Linked DNA regions of Homo sapiens. The protein of the gene in region 2 purifies or fractionates together with the protein of the main gene of each other region. This does not show direct contact. Each region holds a gene or a part of one and is shown on either strand. Other genes may lie near its edges.

The links. Proteins that work in one complex are often made in the same cells at the same time.
Region 1: the proteins of MEIOB (region 2) and GAPDHS purify together in Homo sapiens (affinity purification with mass spectrometry; 3 studies listed by BioGRID and IntAct, with this or other methods). This does not show direct contact.

What each region holds. Positions count from the first base shown.
Region 1 is NC_000019.10:35,539,045-35,544,374, reverse strand, and holds part of GAPDHS (glyceraldehyde-3-phosphate dehydrogenase, testis-specific), read right to left. Parts: intron 3,638-5,330; exon of another isoform or gene 2,791-3,637; intron 2,625-2,790; exon of another isoform or gene 2,301-2,624; intron 2,057-2,300; coding exon 1,966-2,056; intron 1,886-1,965; coding exon 1,767-1,885; intron 1,465-1,766; exon of another isoform or gene 1,431-1,464; coding exon 1,349-1,430; exon of another isoform or gene 1,102-1,348; intron 1,036-1,101; coding exon 884-1,035; intron 711-883; coding exon 548-710; intron 1-547. UniProt on the Homo sapiens protein: May play an important role in regulating the switch between different pathways for energy production during spermiogenesis and in the spermatozoon. Required for sperm motility and male fertility.
Region 2 is NC_000016.10:1,861,331-1,866,660, forward strand, and holds part of MEIOB (meiosis-specific with OB domain-containing protein), read right to left. Parts: intron 4,506-5,330; coding exon 4,448-4,505; intron 787-4,447; coding exon 655-786; intron 1-654. UniProt on the Homo sapiens protein: Single-stranded DNA-binding protein required for homologous recombination in meiosis I. Required for double strand breaks (DSBs) repair and crossover formation and promotion of faithful and complete synapsis.

The sequences.
Region 1 (5,330 bases), on a different chromosome or scaffold from region 2:
GGAGACAGCACCAAGGTGGATGTACAGGGGTCCACCATGACCATGGCATCCACTCCTCACAGAGAAGGCATCTGGCCATGGCCTGGCCCTGAGCAAGTATTGAAAAAAATGGGAGCTGTTGTCTTTTGTTCACTAAGCATGTATTAGTCACCTGCTGTATGCCAGGTTGGAGCCACAAAAGTGAAAAGGCAGCCCCTAAATCCCTGTTTTCTTGGAGTGCACACACCACTGGGGCCAACAGTGACTATGAAATGAAATTTCAGGTGAGGAATATGGCCACAAAAAGAACATATTTTGAGGGGGTGCCTTGCTGAAGAGGGAGGTTCCTCCAGAGACTTGGAGGAAGTAAGGACAGACTGTATGGTCACCTGGCAAGGGAAGCATTCCAGACTAAAGGAACAGCAAGTGCAAAGGCCCTGAGGCAGGGAGATCTCCCTTCCTGCCCTGCAGTTTCTGACTTGGCACATTGAGAGCAGCTCCCTGGCAAGTGGAAATCATGTCCCTTCCCAGAGGGCTCCTCCCAGGGTCTCCTCTCCTCAGCCCCTACCTCATCCTCGGTGTAGGCAAGGATGCCAGCCATGGGCCCCTTGGCTGCTGCTTTTACAGCCTCCTTGATGGCTGAGTAGGGGGCAGGCTGGGCGAGGCGGCAGGTCAGGTCCACGACAGACACATCCGGGGTTGGTACCCGGAACGCCATCCCTGTCAGCTTCCTGGAGAATCCCCCATGAGGAACAGGAGTCAGAACTTAGGGACGTTGCCCTCCATTCCCCCTTTCCCTGTGGCTGGGCCAGGCCCCTGCTTTCCTCTTAAGGACTGAGGGCCGGGCCAGTCCAGTCCTCCTGGCGTATGCCCCCACCCTGGTTGCAGCTTCTTGTCCTCATACCCTTTGAGCTCTGGGATGACTTTGGTCACAGCTTTCGCAGCCCCAGTGGAGGCTGGGATGATGTTCTGGTGGGCACCCCGCCCATCTCGCCAGGCCTTCCTTGATGGCCCGTCCACTGTCTTCTGGGTGGCCGTGTAGGAATGGACTGTGGTCTTGGGGAAGAGAAGGACCAAGATGAGGCCTTCATGCTCCTAAGCTCCCATGCCTCTTTTTTCCAGGACTAAGTTGGTGGCCTAGGTGTGGAGGCTGGTGGGGCCACCACCACAGACCACAGGAGGGGATGTGTGCAGGCCAGGGTCCAGCCTTGCCTGAGGGTTGCACAGTGTTTTAAGTGACTTCTGCACTGGTGGGCCTCTCCTCCCGAAACCAGTCTCTCCCTCTTAACTCCATACAGTAAGCAAGGCCCGGGAAGAAGTTGGGTTTCCCTGCCATCCTTCCTGCCCCAGCCCCTCATCCTCAACTCACCATCAACCCTTCCACGATCCCAAATCGCTCGTGGATGACTTTGGCGAGGGGAGCCAAACAGTTGGTGGTGCAGGACGCGTTGCTGAAACAGCCAAGGTGTGCACGGACACTGTGAGGTGAGTCGCAGAGCCACCCCTCCACCCTTACCCCTCTTGGGGTATGCACGCAGACTTGGTTTTATGAAACGTCAGGATGAGGGTGAGAGGGATCTGTGGGGACACTGTCAGACTGAAGGAGGCACTGAGGTGCAGCTGGGGAGGCTCCCCAAGCTTGTCCTCTGGAAGTCATGCGTTTTTAGCAGATAGTTTCGGGAAGGAGAAGCAGAAGCCAAGCGACCAGGAATCCAGTGGGGCTGAGGGTGGGGAGGACGAGTCTACCCTCCCTTCCACACATTGCAGGATGTCACTGCCCACATTACCTCACAATGTTCATGGAGCCAGGGTTATAGTCATTTTCATTGACACCCATGACGAACATTGGTGCATCCGGTGAGGGCGCGGAGATGACCACACGTTGAGCACCTGCAGAGATGTGGTCCTGGGGAGGAAGCGCAGGTGTCAGGGGCTTCTGGCACCATCATCCCCCCAGCTAGCCCTGGGCACCTCTCCCCAGCTTACCGAAGCTGCCTGTATGGAGAGGTACACGCCTGTGGACTCCACCACGTAGGGGCTCCCGACAGCCCTCCAGGGGATCTGTTTGGGCTCTTTGCTGTGGGGAAGTGGCAGGGCTGAGTCAGTCTCCCCTGCTTGAGCCCCACCTTCATAGTCCATGGCTTTCACCATTTGACAGGCTGAGCAGGTACCGGCCCACCTGCAACCACCTGCGTCCCCTACCCCACACACCTACTTGTTCCAGATGGGCTCCACCCCGCTGGCCTAGCTTTTCACCACTGCCCCACTTCAGACCACTTTCCCTTTGCTGATTGCACCACCCCTGTTATGCCTGGGTACAGGTGGTGACCTCCCCAACTCAGCCCTCAACCTCCTCAGAGGCGCCAATGCTGACTGCTGTCAGCCAGCCCAGACCCTTTCTCCATATGCTGCCCGGGACGTGGACTCTGTGACTGTGAGGCCTGCCCGGCTGCTTTCTGCTTCCCAGCTCTGACAACCTCGCCATGAACCCTCCTAGACCCTCAGCTCCTGCAATAGGAAGCTGGCTGCCAAAGGCCAGGAGGGTCCCTGAAAACAGACACTGCATTAAAGAAAAAGCTCCTGGAGGACTCCTGAAGCCTGAGGCAGCCTTGGGGCAGCAGTGGCTCATGGTTTACATTGGAAAGGTAAGGGAGGTTTCTGGTTTCCTGTTTTATAAATTTATGTTTTTACTTGGTATTTTGACAAACATTTGTATTTGAAGCACACTAAACATCTAGTATTGCCGTTTTCTACTTGGCTTTAGCAAACAAGCATTAAGTGAATAAACTGTTCCACTTTCTTCCTTCCCAGGTTTATCATGAGTAACCGGGTGCTTTGCTTCTGTGATTCTTGGCCAGTGTCGGTCTGTTTCCTTTGCCATTGAGCCTGCTCCCCTCAATGGGGGGTTCAATCAATGTTTGTGGGGTTTGTTTGTTTTGAGACAGGGTCTTCCTCTGTCGCCCAGGCTGGAGTGCAGTGGTGCAATCAGAGCTCACTGCAGCCTTGATCTTCCTGGCTCCGGCCATCCTCCTGCCTTGGCCTCCCGAGTAGCTGGGACTACAGGCGCACACCACCATGCCAAGCTAATTTTTAAATTTTTTTGTAGAGATGGGGTCTCACTTTTGTTGCCCAGGGTGCTTTAGAACCCCTGGGCTCAAGTGATCCTTGACCTCCCACAGTGCTGGGATTACAGGTGTGAGCCACCGTGCCTGGCCTCATGGGTTTTCTTTGTTTTGTTTTGTTTTGTTTTTGAGACAGAGTCTCACTCTGTCACTCAGGCTGGAGTGCAGTGGCACGATTTTGGCTCACTGCAACCTCCACCTTCCGGGTTCAAGCGATTCTCCTGCCTCCGCCTCCCGAGTAGTTGGGGTTACAGGCATGCGCTACCACACCTGGCTAGTTTTTTATTGTTGTTGTTTTTTGTATTTTTAGTGGTGACGGGGTTTGCTCTGTTGGCCAGGCTGGTCTCAAACTCCTGACCTCAGGTGATCCCCACTTCAGCCTCCCAAAGTGCTGGGATGACAGGCATGAGCCTCTGCACCTGGCCTCGTGTTTTTTTTTTAGTTAGCCATTTTATACGTGTTTACTGAACACCTGTCCTGTGCCCATATTCTAAGTGCCTTACCTGCATTAAACTCATGTAACCTTCACAACCCGATGAGGAAGTGCTACCGCTGTCATTTTTTGCATTTTTTTACTGCTGTCAGGGCAGAGGGGAGGGGAGTGAGAGGGAGAGCCTGCTGGAGTGCAGGTGGCTGGTCCCACCTCGGGTCTGCACTCCTGTTTCCACTGCCTGAATGAATGAATGAATGGGCTGCCCTGCAAAGCCATCACACATGCATGGTTATCCTCTTCCTGTCTCCTGCTCTGTCAGTCCACTTTCCATCATCTGGCCCAACGAGCTCTTCTCAGATACCCCCCATTTCCTGCCTTCCAAATTAGGGACACTTGCGATTCCTCTGCAACAATTGCTGAGTTGGCCTGAGGCAAAGACTGTGCCCCCAGAAGACCCCAGGCCCTCCCCAAGGCTGTCATGGGCCCCAGCCTCCTGCCCACCAGGCTGTTTTGAGGATTCCATTCATTCATTCAAAGGAAGTTCTGAATGGCTATCAGGGCCTGTACCTGCTAATGCCAGAGCAACAGTGGTGGTACCAGTTGACAGAGCCCTCCGTGCAAGGCCATGGCCTTGTGGGAAGTGCCCGTTTAAGTGTCCACAAACACATGTTCACTCCATTCGTGCTCCCAGCTACCGCTGTGGTGGGTTTGCTCATCATCCCCATCAGATACAGCGGGGAACTGAGGCTCAGGCAAGTTTGGTTCCTTGCCCAAGGTCACCCAGCTAGCTAGCGGAGGTGCAGGGCAGAGTGCAGGCACACAGCCTGGCTTGTGCAGCCCAACAGTGCGGGGATGGAGAGGGGGCTGGAGGGGCGGGGAACTGCATTGCACAAGTGACCAGAGAAGGCAAGACCTGAGTCGGGACCGTGGACGGAGGGGGCAGCTAGGTGGGGAAGAGGGATGACTCCAAGTGGCGGTAATGGTGGTGGCCACGTTGAAGTCTGCGTGATAACTATGGTGCTGGAGTTGTTTCTAGTGTCATGATTTCAAACTTGGGTTAAGCAGCTTTCTTCAATTTTCACTGACTCTCCAGTCTCTGCCCCCTGCCCACAAACTTCCTGCACCCATCCCTGCCCCTTTATCACTCACCCTACCCCCAGTAAGTACAAGGAGAAGGGCTGAGATTAGATCTGTGGGGAGGGGCGCTGGGGAGGCTGCAGACCCTGCCTGGGCCCAGACAGGGTTCACTAGTGTGCCTGTGTGTATTTGCATGTGTGTGGGCCTGTGGGTGTGTATGTGTAAAAGCCCCAGGCAGCCACAGAGCCAGGAGTCGCTAATAGTTTACATTAGAAAGGTGAATGTCAGCCAAAAATAAAATTCTAAACTCCCCCAACTAACTGAATGTAGCCCTTCTCTCGGCCCAGGGCATTCTAAAGTAAAACTGAAACACTGGTTCAGGCCATGATGGGAACGGATGTTCGGATGTTCGCACAAGCCTCATTATACCTTCCTCCCTTTGGAATTCAGGCATAGTTGACCAGCAGTGGTCAATGGGAGCTGAATAGGTGTGGGTTGAAGGGGAATCAAGAGTTGAGTTCTGGACATGTTGATATGCCCACGAGAAAACATGCAAATGTGCGTTAAAGCAAAATGCAGTGGCTCCTGCCTGTAATCCCAGCACTCTGGGAGGCCAAGGTGGGAGGATTGCTTGGGGCCAGGAGTTTGAGACCAGCCTGGGCCAGATGGCAAGACCTCATCTCTACAAAAAATTTGCCAGGTGTGGTGGCTGGTGCCCA
Region 2 (5,330 bases):
TTCAGTGGTCAAATGTCAACTTTTATCAAAATATATTCAGTGGCTGTATTATATGTCTATAGAAAGATAACCAATTATAACAATAAAATGGGTTGGTGCAAATTGAAATATGTAATAAACCAAAGACAGTAAGGTTATTTAGTAAAAATATAACTATCACATTTGTATGCTTCAAATAACATTCTGAATGCCTCGCATTGCAGTCTTTTTTTTTTTTTTTTTTTTTTTTTGAGACAGGGTCTTACTCTGTGACTCAGGCTGGAGTGCAGAGGTACGATGTTGGCTCGCTGCAACCTCCACCTCCAGGGCTCAAGCCACCCTCCTGCTTCAGCCTCCTTAGTAGCTGGTACTACAGGCCCACGCCACCACACCCAGCTAATTTTTTGTAGAAATGGGGTCTTGCCATGTTGCTCAGGCTGGTCTCGAACTCCTGAACTCACGCAATCCACCCACCTCAGCCTCCCAAAGTGTTGGGATTACAGGCATGAGCCACCGTGCCCCACTGCATTATACTCTTAACACTTGACTTTTTCTGATAAAGTTCTTGAGAATTACGAACTGTGTCTCATTTCAACTCCTTCAGTATAGTTACCATAAACATACCACAGGAATAACACTATGATGGAAAAAGTTTAAGAATCAATGCCAACTTACCACAGTCACCAACCCTAAAGCTGTCAGAAAGAGACTTGATGTAATCTTCATTGCCCCAGGAAGCTGCATTTACAAAATGTGCTGGTGAATCCCGAATGGTGAAGCTGAAAGTGTACCTTTCTGATCCAATATCTAAGGGAAAACCAATGCTTTTATTTTTCAAATGAAGAGTTTCAATCGCTTCTCTGCCTTTTGATAAGTGTTACATGAAAAGTTTCATTTCAATTATAAACAAATGATTATTTGTTTAATCAAATAACTATTGATTATGATAATAAAAATACTCAAATACATAGTACAAAATGTTCTTTCAGATGTATATTCTATAACATGCTTCTATGAATTTCAAGCTGAAGTGGTAACAGGTTGCCCCCTTGCTCCCTTCCCTGGTGATCTGTGTATTTGGAGGGAAAAACATGTAAACTTGAGCCATCCAGGTATTACCTTAGGTTCTCCTTTTCTCTCTTACTGTTGTTTCAACCTAAGTCATAATTCAGATCTAAATAGTTATTTCAGTCCCAGCTACTTAGGAGGATGAAGCAGAATGACTGCTTAAGCCCAAAAGTTCAAGGCTTCAGCGAACTGTGATTGCCCCACTGCTCTCCAGCCTGGGCAACAGAGCAAGACCCCGTCCCAAAAATAAAAGTAAAAATAGGCCGGGCGCAATGGCTCACGCCTGTAATCCTAACACTTTGGGAGCCCGAGGCGGGTGGATCACCTGAGGTTAGTTCAAGACCAGTCTGGCCAACATGGTGAAACCCTGTCTCTGCTAAAAATACAAAACTTAGCCAGGCGTGGTGGTGGGCGCCTGTAATCCCAGCTACTCGGGAGGCTGAGGCAGGAGAATCGCTTGAACCCAGGAGGCGGAGGTTGCAGTGAGCCGAGATCCAGCCTGGGTGACAAGAGAAAAACTCTTGTCTCAAAAATAAATAAATAAATAATAATAAAATAAAAATAAAAATTGGCCAGGCACAACAGCTTACCCCTGTGATCCCAGGACTTTGGGAGGTGAGGTAGGAGAATCACTTGAGGCCTGGAGTTCAAAACCAGCCTGGGCAACATAGAAGGACACCATCTCTACAGAAAATTTTAAAATTAGTGGTGGCACTCATCTTTAGTCTCAGCTACTTGGGAGGCTGAGGAGGAAAGGTTGCTTGAGCCCAGTTTAAGTGTGCGGTGAGCTTTGAATGCACCACTGCACTCCAGCCTGGGAAGAATGAGTTCAGGGTGTTCATGAAATGTACACCCAGGCTGGAGTTCAGTGACGCGATCTCTCGGCTCACTGCAACCCCTGCCTCCCAGCAGCTGGGACTCAGCCTCCTGAGCAGCTGGGGCTACAGACGCACACCACCATGCCAGGCTAATTTTTGTTTTTTGTTTTTTTTTTAGTAAAAACGGGTTTCGTTTTTGTTTGTTTTTGAGACGGAGTTTCGCTCTTGTTACCCAGGCTGGAGTGCAATGGCGCGATCTCAGCTCACAGCAACCTCTGCCTCCTGGGTTCAAGCAATTCTCCTGCCTCACCCTCCCAAGTAGCTGGGACTACAGGCGCCTGCCACCATGCCTGGCTAATTTTGTACTTTTAGTAGAGACGGGGTTTCACCATGTTGGCCATGCTGGTCTCGAACTCCTGACCTCGTGATCTGCCTGCCTCAGCCTCCCAAAGTGCTGGCATGAGCCACCGTGCCTGATGAGACAAGGTTTTTTAGTAGAGGTGGGGAAGAACAGAGTGAGACCCTGTCTCAAAAAAAAAAAAAATAAATTTTAAAAATAATTAAAATAAGTTATTTCAAAACAAATTATGTGCTACTTAATGAGGACCACTAGGGGTCAGCAAATACTTTTTTTCCAAAATAGAAATTTCATATTGGTTTTGCTAATTAAAAATTACAACCTGGCTGGGCGCAGTTGCTCCTGCCTATAATCCCGGCACCTTGGGAGGCCAAGGGGGTAAGATTGCTTCAGCCAAGGAGTTCGAGACTGGGCAACAAAGTGAGACCCTCTGTCTCTACAAAAACTCCAAAAATTATTCAGGCATAGTAGCATGGACCTGTCTGGGCTACATGCGAGGCTGAGGCAGGAAGACCACTTGAGCCCAGGGTTGAGGCTGCAGTGAGCTGTATTCACATTGCTGCACTCCAGGCTGAGTGACAGAGCAAGACCCTATCTCAAATTTTTAAAAAAAGTAATATAACTCAACATACATGTAAATTATAGACATATTCTGAACTGTCTATTAGTGTTTACCTCTGGGGAGAGGACTAGGATGGCAAGAGTGAGGAGCTGAAAGGGGAATTTCACTTTTCAAATCTGTGACCTTTGGTACTGCTGGAATTTTTGATACAAATATAATGTTATATGTACAATGTTTTAAGTCAGTAAGCATACTTCTTCCAAAAAAGGAATACCACAGATGTCATCATAAAAAGAAGTCAAACAACACAGAAGTTTTTCTCCTTCCCTCACAGTCTGATAGGTGAAAAACTGTGAATTTCTTTTTCTTTTCTTTTTTTTTTTTTTTTTTGAGACAGAGTTTCACTCTTGCTGCCCAGGCTGGAGTGCAATGGCGTGATCTTGGCTCACTGCAACCTGCGCCTCCCAGGTTCAAGCGATTCTCCTGCCTCAGCCTCCCGAGTAGCTGGGAATACAAGCGCCTGCCACCATGCCTGACTAATTTTGTATTTTTAGTAGAGAGGGGGTTTCTACATGTTGGTTAGGCTGGTCCCAAACTCCTGACCTCAGGTGATCCGCCCACCTCAGCCTCCCAAACTGCTGGGATTACAGGCGTGACCACTGTGCCTGGCAAAAAACCGTGTATTTCATTTTTATAATTTTAGCAAGTATTTTAATAACTACTTTTTTCTAATTCACACATTTTAAGTGATGCCTTCTGAAATTTGGTAAAAGGAGATATAGACTTCCTCAAACTATTTATTTAGTATTTCTGATCTAATTAGTTAAGATGAAATAAAGTGCAGGCACAAATGATATGGGTACCAGATGACAGCTTGGTTATTTACCTTAAAGATAAAAGCATCATGCCTGTAATCTGATCACTCTAGGAGGATGAGGTGGGATGATCACTTGAGCCCAGGAGTTTGAGACCAGCCTGGGCAACAGAGCAAGACTCTGTCTCTACAAATTTTTGTTTTTTTTAAATCAACCAGGGGCTGGGCATGGTGGCTCACACCTGTAATTCCAGCACTTTGGGAGGCCGAGGCAGGGAGATCACTTGAGGTCAGGAGTTCAAGACCAGCCTGGCCAAAATGGTGAAACCCCATCTCTACTAAAAATACAAAAATTAGCTGGGCATGATGGCATGTGCCTGTAATTCCAGCTACTCGGGAGGTTGAAGCAGGAGAATCGATTGAACCCAGGAGGCAGAGGTTGCAGTGAGTCGAGATCGTGCCATTGCACTCCAGCCTGAGTGACAGAGCGAGCCTCCATCTCAAAAAAAAAAAGAGAGAACACATGTACTCAAATATACATATATACACACACGTGTACACACATACACACACATACACATGCACACACATACACACGTGTGTGTATACACATAAACATATATACACATATGTGTGTATGTATACATATATATAGAGAGAGAGAGAGAATGTGGGAGGGAGGGAGAGAGAAAGCCTTGAATCAGGTACTTGACCATCCAATAGAGAGCATGACCATTGCTCTTAAGGAGTTAAACAGGCATAGAAAAATTAATCACTTCAATATACTTTGTTGTAGTCATAAGCCAAAGTTGATGAAAAATGAAACCAAGAGTTAAACAGAACTCAGCTTTTTCTGTCTGGAAAGCCTTTGACATCTGTTTTCCCAATAACTATACCGATAACTTTCTGAAAAACAAAAAGGTCACAGAAGACCAATATTAAACACAGATGTACTTGATAAATTTAATTTCATGGGCTTGTTATACTTTACTGGCTCTAACAAACATTTCTGACTAGGAACCATTTAAATGTATTTATTCCAGGCAAACATCTAAAAGAAGTTCATAAATGTTCAATTCCACAAGGAATAGTATAAAGTAATCCAAAAGTTAACTACTATTACAAATATAATCATTTAATACTTAGCATATTTCTACTTTATTTTCAATCACCAGATGGAGCATAATAACTGCCCTATGCTATCAATCCTTACTGAATTCATCCAAAGCACATGTATAATGCAATTTAATTTGCCACAGTCTTCAAAGCTTTCCTTTATATAGGGTTTTCTAACAATCCACATAAAATCACTTAGCTTCTTAATCCAAACATGCTGGACAGTAATATAAATTAGACTGTAACAAAACTTATATTTTGCTGCTAATAAATCTAAATTCTAAAGTCCTAGATCTTAAAACTTAGAGATATTAACATCTCCTCAAAATGTTTAATGTTCTCTTTAGTGACTACTGAAGAAAAATTTTAAATGTGTTTTAAGAAATAAAAATGGGCCGGGTGTGTTGGCTCACACGTGTAATCCCAGCACTCTGGGAGGCTGAGGCGGGTGGGTCACCTGAGGTCATGAGTTTGAGACCAGTCTGACCAACATGGTGAAACTCCATCTCTACTAAAAATACAAAAAATTAGCCAGGTGTGGTGGTGGGTGCCTGTAATCCCAGCTACTCGCGAGGCTGAGGCAGGAGAATCGCTTGAACCCAGAGGCACAGGTTG